5 linked regions of the Homo sapiens genome follow. The protein of the gene in region 3 purifies or fractionates together with the protein of the main gene of each other region. This does not show direct contact. Each region holds a gene or a part of one and is shown on either strand. Other genes may lie near its edges.

Region 1 (2,661 bases), on a different chromosome or scaffold from region 3:
CCAGTGTTCAGGAAAGGAGTGAAGCAACGGTGTTTTTGGTTGTGGTTGTTGTTGTTGCTTTTTTGGGTTTTTGTTTGTTTGTTTTCTTGAGACGGAGCCTTACTCCGTCACCCAGGCTGGAGTGCAATGGCGCAATCTCAGCTCACTGCAACCTCTGCCTCCTGGGTTCAAGCGATTCTCCTGCCTCAGCTTCCTGAGTAGCTGGGATTACAGGCGTGCGCCACCACACCGGCTTTTTGTGTATTTTTAGTAGAGATGGGGTTTCACCATGTTGGTCAGGCTGGTCTTGAACTGCTGACCTTGTGATCCGCCCGCCTCAGCCTCCCAAAATGCTGGGATTTACAGGCATGAGTCACCATGCCCAGCCGAGCAGTAGTTTTTAATCCAAATCTTTTTGCTCTGATGTTTTACCTTTTGAGTAAGAAAAATGATTTTGGCCGGGTGCAGTGGCTCACGCCTGTAATCCCAGCACTTTGGGAGGCCGAGGCGGGCGGATCACGAGGTCAGCAGTTCAAGACCAGCCTGGCCAATATAGTGAAACCCTGTCTCTACTAAAAATACAAAAATTAGCCTGGCGTGGTGGCACCTGCCTGTAATCCCAGCTACTCAGGAGGCTGAAGCAGGAAAATCGCTTGAACCTGGGAGGCGGAGATTGCAGCGATCCGAGATCGCGCCACTGCACTGTAGCCTGGGAGACCGAGTGAGACTCCGTCTCAAAAAAATAAATAAATAAAATAAGAAAAACAATTTCAAGCCCTGGTTCTGCTTGAGTTGACATTTGATCAAGTCACTGTACCTCTCTTGCCTCAGTTTCCTCATTTGTGAAGTGGGATTTCAATGCCCTACTTCAGTGGCCAGTGCCACTGGTGACTGCAGAAGGCCCCATGATGTGAGTGTTTTGTACACCATCTGACTGGACCACATTCAGAAGCCCTTAAACTCCCCTCCCTGCCTCTTCCCTCCTAGGATCTCCTGCAGCTCCAGTATGAGGGTGTGGCTGTCATGAAACTCTTCAACAAGGCCAAAGTCAATGTCAACCTTCTCATCTTCCTCCTCAACAAGAAGTTTTTGCGGAAGTGACAGAGGCAAAGGGTGCTACCCAAGCCCCTCTTACCTCTCTGGATGCTTTCTTTAACACTAACTCACCACTGTGCTTCCCTGCAGACACCTAGAGCTCAGGACTGGGCAAGGCCCAGGGATTCTCACCCCTTCCCCAGCTGGGAGGAGCTTGCCTGCCTGGCCACAGACAGTGTATCTTCTAATTGGCTAAAGTGGGCCTTGCCCAGAGTCCAGCTGTGTGGCTTTTATCATGCATGACAAACCCCTGGCTTTCCTGCCAGATGGTAGGACATGGACCTTGACCTGGGAAAGCCATTACTCTTGTGTCTGCTACTGCCCTCCCACAGTCACCCCAATATTACAAGCACTGCCCCAGCGGCTTGATTTCCCCTCTGCCTTCCTTCTCTCTGCACTCCCACAAAGCCAGGGCCAGGCTCCCCATCCCTACCTCCCACTGCATCAGCAGTGGGTGTTCCTGCCCTTCCTGAGTCTAGGCAGCTCTGCTGCTGTGATCTGCACACCCTCCAACCTGGGCAGGGACTGGGGGGATGCAGTGTGTGTTAGTGCCCATGTGGCATTGTGGCACTGTTGCCCCCCATGGCGGCATGGGCAAGATGACCTTCCATTAGCTTCAAGTCTTGTTCTCTTGTCTGTGGTCTGTTTAATATGTGGGTCACTAGGGTATTTATTCTTTCTCCCATCCTTACACTCTGGATCATTGTGCAGACTTAATCAGGGTTTTAACGCTTTCATTTTTTTTTTTTTTTTTTTTTTTTTGAGCTCAAAGAGAGTTCTCATTTTCCCTATTCAAACTAATACCCATGCCGTGTTTTTTACCTTGGATTTAAAGTCACCTTAGGTTGGGGCAACAGATTCTCACTCATGTTTAAGATCTTGTTATTTCAGCTTCATAAGATCAAAGAGGAGTCTTTCCCTTTTCTCTTTTACCCTCAGGATTCTCATCCCTTACAGCTGACTCTTCCAGGCAATTTCCATAGATCTGCAGTCCTGCCTCTGCCACAGTCTCTCTGTTGTCCCCACATCTACCCAACTTCCTGTACTGTTGCCCTTCTGATGTTAATAAAAGCAGCTGTTACTCCCACATCTGTTGTTAACCCTTATTTCATTTTCTGTAGAGCCGGCCTTTAAGTTCTGGAACACAGCTCCCTGAGAGAACTGGGGAATCCTTCCTGCAGCCTCCCCCAGCCCTCTGCCTGCCTCCGGTGTGGTCCTACTCTGCCTGCCTGAGATCGTAAAAGCTTAATGAGATGTGGCATTTATTCTCTCTTCCTTCCCCCGGGGGACAGAGAGGAGGAAGGAATGCTTAGGTTTCTATTCTGTTTTTATCGGCCACTCTGAAGACTAAAGCTGAGAAGAGAAGCCACTCTAATTTCTACCCCACCCGTTTTACACACAGTTCCTGCAGGTTCTTTTCCTGAGCCTTGGGTGGTGATATCAAAGGTGCTTAAGCCATAACTCCTTAGGTATTGTAGATTCTACACTCTGATCAAAATCTCCTTTCTGAAGGGAAAGCTCCCTCCTTTCCTCCTTGCTTTCAGAAAGTAGGGAGGGAAGTCTGTTGGGGAGGGGACAGTAGAGACA
Region 2 (3,568 bases), on a different chromosome or scaffold from region 3:
GCTGGAGCCAAGAGATGGAGGGGCAGCTTGGTGGGTGAAGAGCCCCAGGGACCCGCAGTGTCATCACCTAGGAGCTTCTTAGAAATGCAGACTGAGGCCGGGTGCGGTGGCTCACGCCTGTAATCCCAGCACTTTGGGAGGCCGAGGCGAGCGGATCACCTGAGGTCAGGAGATCAAGACCAGCTTGGCCAACATGGCGAAGCCCCGTCTCTACTAAAAAAATACAAAAATTAGCCAGGCGTGGTGGCAGGTGCCTGTAATCCCAGCTACTAGGGAGGCTGAGGCAGGATAATTGCCTGAACCCGGTCAGAAGGTGGAGGTTGCAGTGAGCCGAGATCATGCCACTGCACTCCAGCCTGGGTGACAGAGCGAGACTGTGTCTCAAACAAACAAACAAAAAAACAAAAAAAAAGAAATACAGACTGAAAGCCCCAGCCTAGACTTGCTGAAACATAAGCTTTTTTTTTTTATATCAAGATCCCCAGGTGATCTGTGAGAATTACTCCCCTAGTATCTCATTTTATAGATGGGGAGACTGAGAGCCAGAGAGAGGAAGGGACTTCCTAGAGTGCTGGAGCTGACAGTCCTGTCCCTGCCCTGGTGCCCCTTCCAACTGCATTTTACCAGAAAGGCTGTCTGACTTCCTGGGGAGGCTGAGAGTGAGGAGGGTATGAACCACTAGAAGCAGATGATCTGTAGAGGGGTCTGCGTTGAGCACATTGTGCAGAATTGGTGTCCTCTGCAAAGCTGCCCAGGTTTTAGCCTGCCTCAGGCCTCTCCTCTTCTGGGGCCAAGGGACAACCAGCTCTCAGCCCGGGAGCCTCTCTTTGAGGGGGAAGGTGGTGGTTCCCTGGTGCATCACCATCAGGAGATGATGGTACCATCAGCAGGCATTGTCAACACACCCTGGAGGCAAATGTCTTGAGTGGTGAGAGTACAGGTGGGCAGTGATATAACTTAGCTGGCTCCCAGTACTCTTGAGTGGTGAGAGTATTGGAGGGCAGTGATATAACTTAGCTGGCTCCCAGAGGGCAGGGGGCTCTCCAGTCCCACCGTCCACTCCTGCCTCCCTCAATTCCCCAGAGGGATAGACACTTGTGGAGTGAGGATTCTTCCAGGTGGGAGACACCCCCATCATTCTCTTGGGAGTTGTATCTCTTGCCCATCCCCAACTGTTCTATCCATATGCAGGTGCAGATACAAGTGCAAGGCAGCCCGGCACATTCCTGAGTGTTTGGGGCAGGGCTGAGTGAAACAAAGGCCAGCTTCCCGGGCCAGCCCTCACAGGCCTGTGTGACAGCATCCCCAGAACATTTGAGTGTGCGAAGGCCCTCTGGGAGACACTAAGTCAGGGGGCTTCTGGGGAATGGAAATAGAGATGTTCCTGTGCCCCAGGAGTTGTCTGATTTCTCTAACTGCCAGCTGCTGGAGGGCAGGGATGTTGTCCTGTTCATCACTGGGTCGTCACTAGGCAGGCCTTCATCATCTAGCTGGGATGTGTAGCTGGTAGAGGTGACGTCATAGTGTGACATTAGGAGTTTGTATGTGACTTGAGCATGATGCTTAATGTCTTTCAGTTTTCTCATCTATAGAATGGGCTTACTAATTTCTACTTCATTTAGTGTTTTTTTTTCTTTTTTTTTTTGGTGGCAGGTTAAATGACTGAAGTAAGCACTGAATAAACAATGTGGTTGTTATTAAAGTAGATAGTGACTGTGCCATGGGACGGATGGGAGGCCGAGGCGATGGGGGCAGTGCTGTGAGTCCAGAAGAGGAAGAAATCCTGCCCAAGTGAAGTAGTCAGGGCAGACTTCTTGGAGGAGGTGTCTCCAAAGTCAGGCATTGAAGGAGGGCAGGAGGTGGTGGAGCAGGGGCCTTCCCTGGTGCAGAGGAGAAGGGTGGTGAGTGGGAGGTCTTGGGTGATCTGTGAGGAGCTGAGCCCGGCTGGTTGAGGTGAGGAGGTGGTGGGGTCGGCAGTGAGAAGGTCGCACAGTTGGCCCTGCAAGGCGGATGGAGCTGCTTTCTGTTGCCCAAGAGCATGACAGGGGCTGGTCAGGATCCACAGAGTTCTTTCTGCTTCATCGCCTTGTGCTCCTGCCCCTGGGAGCTGTGGATCCCAGATCCAGATGACAGCCCACCTTGCTGGCAGGATGCGCCAATCCCCTGGGCCTGAAGAATAACAGCATCCCTGACAAGCAGATCACGGCCTCCAGCAGCTACAAGACCTGGGGCTTGCATCTCTTCAGCTGGAACCCCTCCTATGCACGGCTGGACAAGCAGGGCAACTTCAACGCCTGGGTTGCGGGGAGCTACGGTAACGATCAGTGGCTGCAGGTGGGTCAGCCTTCTTGGGATATGGGGCTGGGGTTGGGTGGGATGAGGTGGGACTGCCAGATCTTTGACCTCTCTCCAGCCCAGGCTTCTCTTCTGCTCCCCAAAAGAGTTCTGGAAAAGCCTTGTTTTTCTTCGGCTTTTCTTTCTTCTTCCCACCTGTACTCCCTTCTCTTGATCCTGCTTCCACCAAGGTGGAGAAAGGGTGTGTGTGTGTATGTGTGTGTGTGTGTGAATGTGTGTGTGTGAGTGTGTGAATGTGTGTGAATGTGAGTGTGTGTGAATGCGTGCGTGTGAATGCGTGCGTGTGAATGTGTGTGTGAATGTGTATGTGTGAATGTGTGTGTGTGAATGTGTGAATGTGTGTGTGAATGTGTGAGAATGTGTGTGAATGTGTGTGTGAGAATGTGTGTGTGAATGTGTGTGTGTGAATGTGTATGTGTGAATGTGTATTTGTGAATGTGTGTGAATGTGTATGTGAATGTGTATGTGAATGTGTATGTGTGAATGTGTGTGAATATGTGTGTGTGAGAATGTGTGTGTGTGTGTGAATGTGTGTGTGTGAATGTGTGTGTGTGAATGTGTGTGTATGTGTGTACACAAGGGGAGAGCCATTCCATGGGCTGCCACAGGATTGACAAGGCTCAGCCTATGGACAGACAGCAGGGCGGAGGCGGAAGAGGGAGACATGACCCAGGCATCTTGGGACCTCTCCCTTGAGCACAGCATACATATTCTCTGACTCAGTGTCTAAGAAGCCACCATGTGACAGCCCTTGTCTGTCATTGAAACTAGGAAACAAAAGAGAGCCATGGAAAACCGGAGCTTGTTTTATAGATGAGGAAGCCGAGAGCTGGCAGGACGATGATCTGCCTAGTACCCACCTGCTGGCTGGCAGTGAGTTGGGTTTACACCTGGATGTTGGGGAACTGTGTGTCCAGGTGCAGCTGGCAGGTTCTCCAGGGAGGTCAGGGACCGGGGACAGGAGGTCTGTCTCAGGGCCCCATGGAGCACACTGCGGAGCTGGGTTCCCTGAGGAGCTGCCTGCCTGTGGACACCCTCAGGACCAGTGTCAGACTGTGGGCGGCGCCGCAGGGAGCCTCTAGAGCAGTTCATGCCCCTCCAGGCTGTGGCCTCTCCTGTCCTTCTTCCCATCACAGTGCAGTGCAGGTCTCAGGCAGGGGTGGTTGGCGTGGAGTTGGCCAGGGCCCAGACCCTATGAGCTTTATAGCAGTGA
Region 3 (4,971 bases):
ATTTAAATATGAGACAGTATTCTAGGTAAAATATGTTCAGATTCTTCTGACTGTCCTGTATGTAAAAAATGAGTATCAGCAGCTAAATTTAGATAATGATTGAGTCCTTGATATGGGGAAACAAAGGAGGGAGCTATCAAAATGTTTTTCCTGTAATATACATGGATAATATAATTCAGTAGATCGTGCCACCATGTGAAAAAGGAGACTGATTAACTGTGGGTCAATTGTAACTTAGGTGAATTATTTCTGATCTGAGAGTCTTAATCTTGCTTAGTTGTAATATATGGACAGAAATAGTGACCTTCTCCAAGTTGGTGAATGCTTTTATATCAGACCCAAGAAAGTGGCTAATTAATCTGTATCTTTAAACACAACTATATTTAACAATTAGAATATGTGTGTATTTACACATACATTTGTACACATGTATGGATGTATATATACACACATACAGTAAATGTATATATGTATATATACACATACAGTAAACATATGTGTGTTTGTATATATATCCTTTATATATATAAAATGTATAAATGTGCTCTTTTAAAACCCAAACTATTTTTTTAAACTGGTTAATAACTACTCATTAATTAAATATCTCACAAGTTAAAACAACAGAGATGAGAGTGGGACTGAGAAATAACTGATTACTAATTGTAACCCCCTCTCTGGCAGAATTTACCACATACAAAGTTATAAAGTGCCCATTGGTGGTCTTAAATTTCTCGATATGAGTCTAGCCTTGCAAACTGAGGAAACCAAGGACAGAAAAGGAAAAACTTTCAAGTTACCACAACTTGCACAGTGTTGATAATTAAAGTTCTTCTCTCTCTTTATGTCTCTAAAAATGTATTTTGTCTCTCTAGTATGGACAAAAGATTTATGTGATAAATAATTAGACTTTACACCATTTAGAAAATAAATATCTATAAGTATCTACTTTTCTTGGAAGCTACTTTACTATTAGAAAAGTTGTTTTGCAAGAAGGTAAATCTTGCTGTCATTTCCATCCATTTGATATGCTTCATTAAATTATACAAAGAAAATTAAATTATAGGAAGTCATGTTGAAGTTTTTTGGCATAGAATTCACTACAATTAAAGGAGAGAAAGAGTGCCAGAGTCTGTGCTCCCTAGAAGGGAAGCCACTTTAAGACATGATGGGCTTTCCTTATACGTCTGCTTTTTTATTTTTAACCACCACCACCTCTTTGCTGACCAACATTTCCTTGCAAATTATGGCAAGGGGGGAGGAGCATGAGCAAAGGAGCTGTGTGAAAGTTGGTGATACTCCCTGCCAAAATTCCAAGTTGAAATGGAATCCTTCAGTAAAGTCTCTTAGGCAAGGTGGGAAAAAAAGATTTACAACTTCAGCAGAACTGTAATTCTACCAAGAAAAAGTACAGTCAATCTACCTCACTGTCACCAAAGGATCTGAAGCTGGCTTTGTCATATATCTTTCTCCTTTATATATGGAGGTGGGGGGGGGAGAAAAAAAGGAAAGAGAGTTAAAAAAAATTGATGAAGCCCTGACCCTTTAGATTCCATTTATAGTCTGAGCCGGAATGCCATCCCCCTTGACTAGAGAACTGTCCAATCCAGCCGCATGTGTCAAGATTCTATTAGGCACTAAGTGAAATATATATGCATGCCCTTATGCCGTTTAACACTCTGGGTCCATCTTCAAGACACTGGGCTGTGGATCAACCCAACCACCACTCCTCTTCCAAGAATCATTTTGACAGGTTCTTTTGGAGGAACTCCTTCTCTTTTTAACCCACCCTTTTAAAAAAAAAAATGGCACCAAAGAAAGACGTGAAGAAACCTGTGGCTGCGGCTGCGGCTGCCCCAGCCCCGGCACCGGCACCTGCACCTGCCCCTGCCCCAGCCAAACCCAAAGAAGAAAAAATTGACCTCTCTGCCATTAAGGTAACTAAATGGATGAACTGTTTGGTCACTGAAACATCTTTCAATAGTAAGGATCTCTAGGAACTTGCAAAGGCGTGTATTTTTCATTGAGAGGAATAGCATTATTTAGTGAGCTGGTAGATTATGAAGAAGAGAATCCTGCTTTAAAAAATGAATGCCAGCATATAATTTCAAAAATTATTAGAGTATGGTATCATATGTGAAGCCTGTGCTTGCTCTATTTTTTATTCTCAAGTTTCCATTTTCTCCTAAATTGCACTTATACTGTTTAGGAGAAAAGTATATATGCTTAACAGTGTTGCATTTAAGAATATTTAAACCAGTGTTTGGGTTTAAATAAAATCTCTCTGGAAACCAGATCCCTTACTTACAAATTACATCAAAAGGAACGTTTTAGCCCCTACTTATTTCCAGAAGTTTAAAAACAGCTGATGGCCCGGTTGTCCTTTATGTATTTGACAGTTACTTTCCTTCTTCTGAAAAAGAAGATTTTTTGCAATTCAAGTTAATTCTCCCTTCAGCTTTGCCTAATAAAATTTGATACAACACTAAATGAGATCTCAGTGCAGAAAATTATGCACTCAAGTGTTTCAGTGACTGTAACTGTCATCTTGTTTATTTATACACAGTATTTAATTCAGAATTTGTGAGTTTCTTCTAAATGAAACTAACAAAAATAATTATAAAATTTGTTATTTACATGGCTTTTAGCTTATGTCTTAGAGTATTTGCCTACTGATCTTGGACTAAGAAAAATGTGATTAATTATTGTGTTAACACTTTGCTGTGATCAAAGTTCTCAATTGCCAAAAGATTATCTGCTTTTGGAAAAATAGGTACGTCTGTTAACTTCCAGTGATGTGACTCATTAAATGTGCACCTTCTCTTCATTCACTGAGTTCTGATTGGCTCATATTACAACTTGAAAATTTTTATCTAAGGAAACCTGCCTTATATGGAAAATCAATGAGCAATAGTACCCATGAGGTGAACTTTTCACTTAAGCCAAAAGTTGTATATGTAATAAATCTCAATTTTGCCAATTTACCATTGTTTACTTGTAACTATGATGCTGACCCATAAACAAACATTTCATTGACCATTTAATATAACTATAGAATTTTTTAAGTCCCAAAAATATTTAGTTAGATCACCCTTAGACATTATGTAATGAAGTTAAATATATTTATAATTTATATAACATTCCAATTAAACATGAAATTTTGTTTAAAGTATAAGTAAATTATCACGAATATTTAATCTTTAGTTTGTAGGTATTTGAAGTATTTGAAAAAAATTGGTCATGGAATATAATATTAAGAACTATTCTTAATGGATATCCATTTAGGAGGACAAAAAAATGCATGTCAGGTCTTCTGATAAATGTTTTTCTAACTTGAGGACTGCATGCATACAGTTCTTTAAGAGGAAACCAAATTTTTCATCTCCAGCAATCCTAGTTAATGTATCCTTTATAGATGCATACTGTCTACATTACACAATAAGTGAGATCATAGCCATGATAGTAATTCTGATTGTCCCTCATCTTTAACTCTGCACTCTGTAGTAACATAAGAGATATGAATCAGTGTCAAAGCTAGTCCTTTATTTATTGTGATTTATAAGACAATGTTACCTGTTTGTATCTGGTATTACAAACTTCTGTAAAGAAAAGAAAATGTACCTCTTTACCTAAGAAGCAAATGAAGTATCTAACTAATGAAAACAGGCATTAATTTTCTTCCCTGAGGAACTGTGTAAGAATGAGTACATAAATAAAAATTGTTTGGCAGGTGAGAGATCTCCAAGAAAAGACAAAACATCTCTTTTCTAATCCAGAAATTAAGCCAATTACTTGTTCATAGTCAGCAGAGAAGCAACACTTTTCAGAATCTTGAAAATTTGTTTATTATTCTGTCAATATGTTAAATTGACATATTGACATTCGTCTGTCAATATGTTAAATTGAGTTGTACAAGCTTAATATTGTGTAATATTGTGAGGATACAATATAAGCTTATACAACTAAGCAAAAGAAGGAAATACCCCTGGAGTGTCTCTATGAGAATTGGGTATGCTCCATCTTTATTATTTCATTGCAGAACAAGAGATGTGATGGATTCTAGTAAGGGACACAAATCAAAAAGAAGTTAAATGAATCTGGAAGAAACAGGAAAAAAAATAACCTTTATCTTCCATCCAGAAGGCCCATTTGCAACAGAGAAAAAAAAGAGAAACAAATGGAAACTAACACACTTTTGTAAAGAAATGTAAATATCTTCAATGCTTTGCATTCATTAATATGAAATAAATCAGTGCATATTTAGATGTATTCTAGCATGGCCAAAGAAAGTGATACAACTCAAGAATTTTATAAACTTTAATTTTATCCCAGGAGGTAACAGGCCTAATTAAAACATACATTAAAACATTTTATATTATGATGTTTTTAATCACTTAATAATGTTTCTAGATATATTACCTCATAAAAGCTATACAATTTTTTCAAGCAGAGAAAATGAACTTTAAAGAAATTAATAGAGCTGTTATATGTATTCATTAACTTTCTGAAAATTCAATAAAGAACAAAACTTAATTGGATTATAAACTTTCTTTCATAAATCAAAAAAGATTAGAAACTTAGCTGTCCTCTAGACTTTGAGTAATGCTGTAGTTTAATCATAACTGCCTTTGTGTAGTACTATAGTCATAGCCATGGTAAAATTTAATTTCTCCATAGTATTCCCAGCTAATATCTATGTTTCATATTGTAATATACTACATTTAATAGCCATATATTTGATTCCCCCATAAATCTTGAATAATCTTGAATATAATTAATTAGTTTTATCAACTGCTTAAATGTGCTTTCCAATCTGATTTCCTGGTTTGTTAGTTATTAGTTTACAACATTTCTTCAATTGTTCTGACACAAATTTTATGATACTCTCTGAAGGAATGCTTACTTGATGTCCAATCCTAATGGATTTTCTATGAGTACCCTTTTCAACAACAAAATACTGTTGATATTTGAACA
Region 4 (4,470 bases), about 31 Mb from region 3:
GTTTCTTTTCTAGAAAAAATTGAAAGAACTGTCCAGATTGAGGCTTCAACTGTTGAAATTGAAGAGCGAGGGGTCAAGCTACGCCTGACAGTGGTAGATACCCCTGGCTATGGTGACGCTATCAACTGCAGAGATTGGTATGCTCCCCCATGCCCAGGGATCTGCATTTGTTTACTTAATATACTTCATAAATTTATAGATAGTGTTAATGAGTGATTATTAAGTTTGGGATTGCTGTATATAATAAAACACCTAGACAATTTAAAGCGTGTTAAATGTTGACTTTTTAAATAAGGAATTTTATAGAGAGTAATTTTTTTCTGGTACTCTACTGTAATTTGAGATCGCAAAGCCAGTCATCCATAGACTGCTAGTATAAATGAAACACCTGGATTTGAGCCGTGGTTGGTGACCGAGATACTGTAGTACATCCTTTCTATGTGGAAGGAAGTGAAACCTGTTAGAGAGTGGGTTGAGTCGTAGTGTCTGTAAATGACTGCTCATTGGCATCATTTTCACAAATAAGGAAATGAAGAAGTAGAAGATAGAGCAGTCTGTCACCTGTACCGTGCAAAGAATGCCACTTTTGTTGTACAAACTCCCTCCTGGTTCTATTCCTGTCAACATAAAGCATCAGGTTTCCACCACTAGATGAAAAGGGGAAGGTTCTGTTATCTTTCTCCTACATTTAGGAATTTCTCCCTTCTTACATGTGAAAGTGCTGTACTGTTTCCCAGCTCAGTTAAATGCTGTTTCCCAGCTCAGATAAACCTGTTCTTGACCCATGTTCTCTACCACCCTGTTCCTCTGCCCCTTTTCACAGTCACGTTCCTGAAAAGAATTGGCAGCCCTGGCTGGGTGCGATGGCTCATGCCTGTAATCCCAGCACTTTGGGAGGCTGAGGTGGGCTGATCACAAGGTCAGGAGTTCGAGACCAGCCTGGCCAACATGGTGAAACCCTGTCTCTACTAAAAATACAAAAATTAGCCGGGCGTGGTGGCGTGTGCCTATAATCCCAGCTACTTGGGAGGCTGAGGCAGGAGAATCGCTTGAACCCTGGAAGCAGAGGTTGCAGTGAGCCGAGATCACGCCACTGCACTCCAGCCTGGGCAACAGTGCAAGACTCAGTCTCAAAAAAAAAAAGAACGAATTGGCAGCCCTGTCTACACTGGCCCTCTCTCAGGTGCATCATAACCTATTCCATTCAGGCTTTTGACTCTCAGCACTTAGGGGCAGTTATGCTTGGCATAGTTTCCAAAAACTTCCATTTGCCAAATCTAAAAGTCAGTCTTCTGTTCTCATCTTGAAAATGAATTATTAAATTATGTATATTTGGGCGGAGGCACTTGTTTTCCCTTTGAAGTCAGGGACCCCCTGTTTTATACCCTATGATTATTGTTAATGTTTCTGTTTCTCTCAGTTTTAAGACAATTATCTCCTATATTGATGAGCAATTTGAGAGGTACCTGCATGACGAGAGCGGCTTGAACAGGCGGCACATCATTGATAATAGGGTGCATTGTTGCTTTTACTTTATTTCACCTTTTGGACATGGGTAAGTAATTGTTTATCGTGGAGAAATGCTTTACTACATGGGTTTGTAAGTTTTACCCAAACTGTGTATTTTAATATAAGAATTAAGATAATTTGAGAGAGAAGAGTTTTGTATGTATTTTTTTTAAATAAGTGACAATTCTAAAATTAATTTTAGACTTAAGCCCTTAGATGTGGCGTTTATGAAGGCAATACACAACAAGGTGAATATTGTGCCTGTCATTGCAAAAGCTGACACTCTCACCCTGAAGGAACGGGAGCGGCTGAAGAAAAGGGTGAGTGAGGCTGGCGTCCTGCCCTCCCTCTGGGTGCGACTCGGGGGCATGGGGATGAAGAAAGGAGTGTGTTCCCACGCTCAGTCTGCTCAGGTGTCGGGAGGCAGGGCGGGAGAATTTTTCCTGCATTTTAGTGGTGGTTTTCAAGGAGAACCTGATGGTTACAAATTTTAATTTTTGCCTTCATGAAGGTATCAAATTTCTATTCTTTAAATTCTCCTTATATTTAAAATGCCCTCGATGAGTAGCAGTTGGTTACACACAAGTACCTTCCATGGGAGTTAAATGACTCAAATATAGAAATGTGATCTCTCCATGAAGTTTGTTATTTTACCTAAATTCTTTACTGCAAATGACCCATACAAGGATGTATCTAAGTAGACTGGTTCTCTGTTCTGTTTGGAAACATAGCAGTTGTCAGCCAGCGAAGCGCCTCTCACCCGCCAGCAGCTCCTGTGGTGTCCCAGTTTTAGTGCCTCTTCCGTGTATGTCTGTAAAGCCTCTTTATTGATTCTCTGCTATATATTTTTAAATTGCTTACTTTGTTCTGATTATATGCTCCTTAAGAAAGTCCAAATAGTTTATATATGCTAAACTCTAAAAATACAAATCCCTAACTGAACATACCGGTACGTGCATAAAAATACAAATCCCTAAATGAACATACCGATCTGTGCGTGTAATCACAGTTGCTGGGGCAGGGTAGGGGGATACAGCAGGGGGTTCAGGCAGGAGGATCACTTGAGCCCAGAAGTTGGAGGCCAACCTCAGCAACATAGCAATACGCTGTCTCTAAAAAAATATATATATATATTTTATATATATAATATATAATTAATAAATATATATAATATATATTACATATATATTATATCTATATTATTTATATTACATATGTAATATATATTATATTTATATTATTTATATAATATATTATATATATTATATTATTTATATGTAATATATTTATATTGTTTATATATATTATATTTATATTATTTATATATAATACATATTATATTTATATTATTTATATATAATATATATAATAAATATATAATATATATAAAAATATATATATTTAATATATCTATAATATATATTATATATATTATATATAATATATATAATTGTACATATATTTATTATATATATTATATATATAATATATATTATAAATATAATATATAAATATATTTATAAATATATATAAATATTATATTTATACATTATATTTATATACATATTATATATACATTTTTATATATTATATATATATAAATATAATATACATATATTTTTTAAAATAAAAGAGTTTCTAGGCCGAGTGTGGTGGCTCACGCCTGTAATCCCTGCACTTTGGAAGGCTGAGGCAGGCACATCACCAGAGGTCAGGAGGTCGAGACCAGCCTGGCCAACATGGCAAAACTCCGTCTCTAAAAAATTACAAAAGTTAGCCGGGCGTGGTGGCGGGCATCTGTAGTCCCAGCCACTCAGGAGGCTGAAGCAAAAGAATCGCTTCAACCCAGGAGGCAGAGGTTGTTTGCAGTCCAGCCTGGGTGACAGAGCAAGACTCCGTCTCAAGAAAAAAAAAAAAGAATTTCTGTAATTACCCACAGAAAGAACAACTGTTAAGTATATATCCTTCTAGAACATAGCTTATGTTTTTGGTTTTGCAGAATGAAATCACATAGTAATACTATTCTGCCATTTGATTTTTCTATTTAAAAATATTTGGAAGCATCCTCATATATATACTGTATCCTAATTCTTCCTGGATGCACAGCATTCCACCATATGAATATACTCTAACTTGTCCAGTTTCCTGCTGATGAATATTTGGCTTACTTTTTGTTTTACTCTGGCCCCTTTTCTTCTTTGACCAAATTTACTGTTTCTTTGCCCCTTGCTCGCTGCTTTTGCTAGTGATACCCTCTGCCTGGAACAGTCTTCCCTCAGATACCTGTGTGGGGAACTCCCTCACTGAGCCCAACGCTGCACACAAGATTTCACATCTCCATCCCCTGCTCTGCTGGTAGCACTCCCCCCACACTGCATAAAGTATTTCTCTAGCGTGTTTTTTGGCTTCTCCTGACCCCTGACCCCAGGTCCTGAGATCAGGAATCTGCTTTGTTCACTTATGTATTCCCAGAGTTCCGAATAATGTCTGGCACATAATAGATTTGTTGCATAATTGTTGTAATGAACACTGGTGTACATCTATCTTTTCACAATTGTGTGAGCCAAACGAATTCTTAGGAAATAAGTATACATTTAAATTTTTGAAGGATGACTAAATTTGCTCTAAAGTAAGTTTGTAACAATTTACATTTCCAAAGTGTACTCTTCTCTCCACCCCCTAAAACTGTCCTGGTTATGTTGCCAGTTTTTGTAATGTGTTTCCTGTCTGAGAAATTGTATCTCATTTGAATTTGCCTTTCCTTGATTGCCGATGTGAGTATCTGTGCTGGTGTTGATGCCGGTTGGTGTATTCTCTCAGGTTGCAGGGACTTGGCTCTTGCTTTTTTATTGACTTAACACATATACTTATTTTTAGATGTTGACTATCACGTTGCAGATGATTTCACCTGGTTTGACTTTCATTTTTTCACATTTTTCTTGGTGCTTTTTTCCAAAGCAA
Region 5 (3,500 bases), on a different chromosome or scaffold from region 3:
CGCATTTGAGCAGGCAGTAATGAGAATCATCACACTTAAGATGTATCAGTTGAGATTATCCAGTCTGAAGAACAGAATGAGAAAAGAATAAGGATGAAGAGAGACTTGTATGATGCCATCAAGCATACCAACAAAGGCATAGTGGGGGTCCTAGAAGGAGAGAAGAGAGAGAATGGGCAAAAGAATACTTGGGGAAATATTGGCCATAAACTTCCCAAATTTGGTGAAAAACACTGATGTATACATCCAAAAAGTTTAACAAACTATAAGTGGGATAAACTTAAAGTGATCTCTACCTAAACACATTATAATTAAACTGTTGAAAAACAAAGAAGAGAACCTTAAAAGCAGCAAGAGAAAAATGACTCTTTATGTACAAAAAATCCTAAGGAAAATTAACAGCTTTCTCATCAGAAGCCATGAAGGCCAAAAGGCAGGTAAATGACATATTCAAAGAGCTAAAAGAAAAAGACTGTAAGAATTCTATATCTAGCAAATCTATTCTTCAAAAATGAAAGAGTGGAAGAGAAGTAGTAGTAAAACCATCTATATGCAGACAACTTGACCGTGTATATAGAAAATCCTAAGGGATCCACTAAAAAACTCTTGGAACTAAGTTCAGCAAGCTTGTTGGAAACAACATCACCAGTACACAAAAATCATTTGTATTCTATAGATTTTTAATGAACACTCTGAAAATGAACTTAAGAAAACAATTCCATTTTAAATAGCATCAAAAAACACTTATGAGTACATTTAACAAAAGTAGCTAAAACTTATACTCTAAAAATACAAAAAACATTGTTGAAAGAAATTAAAGAAGACCTAAGTAAATAGGAAGACATCCCATGTTCATAGATTAGATCTTAATATTGTTAGATGGCAATACTCCCAAAATTAGTGTATCAATTCAGTGTAATTTTCTTTTTTGAGACATGAACTTGCTCTAATATTCAGGCTGGAGTGCAGTGGTATGATCATGGCTCGCTGCAACCTCAAACTCCTGGGCTCAAGCAGCCCTCCTGCCTCAGTCTCCCAAGCAACTGGGACTATAGGCATGTGATGCCACATCTGGCTAATTTCAGTGCAATCTGTATCAAAAGTCCAATTGGCTTCTCTGCAGAAATGGACAGGCTGATCATAATATTCACATAGAAATTCAAGGGACTCTGAATGACCAACAATCATGAAAGACAAAAAAAAAAAAAAAACAAAATTGGAAGACTCACACTTCCCAATTTCAAAACATACGACAGAGCTACAGTAATCAAGGCATTGTGGTACTGGCATAACAATAGACATATAGGTCAATGTAATAAAATTTAGAGCTCAGAAATAAGCCCTCACATTTATGGGGAATTTATTTTCAACAAGTGTGCCAAGACCATTCAATAGGGAGGTAATCTTTTCAACAAAGGATAGTGGGACAACTGGATATTCACATGTGGGAGAATGAAGCTAGAACTTTACCTCATACTATATAAAAAAGTTACCCAAAGTAGATCAAATACCCAAATGTAAGAGCTAAGACTATACAACTCTTAAAAGAAAACATAGATATGAATCTTCATGAACTTGGATATGACACAAAGCACAAGCAACAAAAGGAAAAGTAGATTGATTGCACTTCATCAAAAGTAAAAACTTTTTGCTTCAAAGGATACCATCAAAAAAATGAAAAGATAAATGTGAAGAAAAAAGTGAAAAGGGGCCAGATGCAGTGGCTCACACCTGTAATCCTAGCATTTTGGGAGGCCAGGGCAGGAGGACCACTTGAGGCCAGGAATTCGAGACCAACCTGGGCAACAAAGTGAGACCTCATCTCTACAAAAAAAAAAAAAAAAAAAAAAGTGAAAAAGCCCACAGAATGGAAGACAATATTGGTAAGTCATAAGGGACTTTTATCTACAACATATAAACAACTCTTATCATCTCAATAAGACAGGTAACTCAGTTTTTTAAATGAGGAAAGGATGTGAATAGACACTTCTCCAAAGACACACAAATGGCCAAAAAGCACATGAAAAGATGTTCAACATCATTAATAATTAGGAAATGCAAATCAAAACCATAGTAAGATACCATTGCATACCCACTAGGGTGGTTATACTTTTTAAAAAAAATCTATAGAGACAGGGTTTCTGTCACCCAGGCTATGTTTCGTAGCACTCGGATCACACGACCAGAGTAGTACATAATCCACCTGTTATACTGGCTCTTTACTTGTCTGTACCCCTCAACCCCTCAGTAGACTGTGAGTTCCTTGGGTACATACAGGAAGTAAATTTAAACTGCTGCTGCCACTGGGTCTGACATCTAGGCATGTACTTTGTAAATGTTTATTGAACTGAATCTGGCCACTGGTATTCCTTAACACAGGAGCTTGGGTTGGATAGAGGCCAGAGATAATAATTTAGGAGCAGGCTAGTGCAATAGAAGAGGAAGCCAGGTCTCTAGAGCTGATGCATCTAAATTTCATTTTTAGCGAATTGAACAGAGGGATGTGAGGAAAGCCAACTTGAAAGAAAAGAAGGAGAGGAATCAGAATGAGGCTTTACTCCAGGCCATCAAGGTGAGTTCTTAAACCTTAGGTTTTTATGGTCCTGCTAAATCCACTAATCCTGTGAAGCTTGTTGGGAACCTTTCTTGGGATGCTTTACCTGAAGGAATTTGTTCATTTTCTTTCTACTTTGGTAAAGCAGTGTGACAGAGGAGACCAGGCTCTGGAGTCAGGCCACCCCAGTTCAGTCAGCTCTCTCATGTGCATGTGTTGGTCTCAGTAACATATACAGTTGTCTCCACTTACCTGAAGCAGATGTATTCCAGGATCCACAGTGGATGCTTGAAATCTCAAATAGTTCCAAACCTGATTGCCATCAGTCAGAACACATTTCTGTTTGTGTCTTCCACCCACAAATATAATGCCTTTTCTATCTTAGCTAAAGCACTTATCACACACTGTGGCCATAATTTTTGCAGTTTGAGGTACATCAGCAACAGCAAAACTAGCATGAATTTCTTTTTCCTTCTTTGTAATTTCACAGATAGAAGGTTGCTCTTACCATAGATCTTAGCAACCTCAGCATACAATTTTTCTTCTAATTAAGTTGAGAAATTTCACCTTTTTACTTAAAGGAGGTAGTTTATAGCTTCTATTTGGCATATCCGAATTGCCAGCATCAGTACTCTTGTGCTTTGGGGTCCTTATTAAGTAAAATGAGTGTTACTTAATACAGGGACTGTGATACCATGACAGTCAATCTGATCATTGAGATGGGTGCTAACTCACAGGTGGGTATCATCTACAGCGTGGATGTGCTGGCCAAAGAGCAGAGCCCGTGATTTCATCATCTGCTACTCAGTGCATAATTTAAAACTTACAGGTTGTTTATTTCTGGAATTTTTCATTTAATATTTTCAGACCATGGTTGACCACTGGTAACTGAATCTGTGGAAAGCAAAACCGTGGATAAGGGGACACTACTGTACTGAATACCTGC

What was found.
Region 1: the proteins of MYL1 (region 3) and IQGAP3 purify together in Homo sapiens (co-immunoprecipitation; one large-scale study listed by IntAct). This does not show direct contact.
Region 2: the proteins of MYL1 (region 3) and MFGE8 purify together in Homo sapiens (co-immunoprecipitation; one large-scale study listed by IntAct). This does not show direct contact.
Region 4: the proteins of MYL1 (region 3) and SEPTIN2 fractionate together in Homo sapiens (co-fractionation; one large-scale study listed by BioGRID). This does not show direct contact.
Region 5: the proteins of MYL1 (region 3) and TTC4 purify together in Homo sapiens (co-immunoprecipitation; one large-scale study listed by IntAct). This does not show direct contact.

What each region holds. Positions count from the first base shown.
Region 1 is NC_000001.11:156,524,905-156,527,565, reverse strand, and holds the end of IQGAP3 (ras GTPase-activating-like protein IQGAP3), read left to right. Parts: intron 1-966; coding exon 967-1,080; 3' UTR 1,081-2,161; downstream 2,162-2,661.
Region 2 is NC_000015.10:88,900,317-88,903,884, reverse strand, and holds part of MFGE8 (lactadherin isoform a preproprotein), read left to right. Parts: exon of another isoform or gene 1-1,702; intron 1,703-2,149; coding exon 2,150-2,334; intron 2,335-3,126; exon of another isoform or gene 3,127-3,228; intron 3,229-3,568.
Region 3 is NC_000002.12:210,311,874-210,316,844, reverse strand, and holds the start of MYL1 (myosin light chain 1/3, skeletal muscle isoform), read left to right. Parts: upstream 1-1,670; 5' UTR 1,671-1,802; coding exon 1,803-1,934; intron 1,935-4,971. UniProt on the Homo sapiens protein: Non-regulatory myosin light chain required for proper formation and/or maintenance of myofibers, and thus appropriate muscle function.
Region 4 is NC_000002.12:241,335,962-241,340,431, forward strand, and holds part of SEPTIN2 (septin-2), read left to right. Parts: exon of another isoform or gene 1-13; coding exon 14-137; intron 138-1,420; coding exon 1,421-1,555; intron 1,556-1,711; coding exon 1,712-1,829; intron 1,830-4,470.
Region 5 is NC_000001.11:54,725,861-54,729,360, forward strand, and holds part of TTC4 (tetratricopeptide repeat protein 4), read left to right. Parts: intron 1-2,485; coding exon 2,486-2,572; intron 2,573-3,500.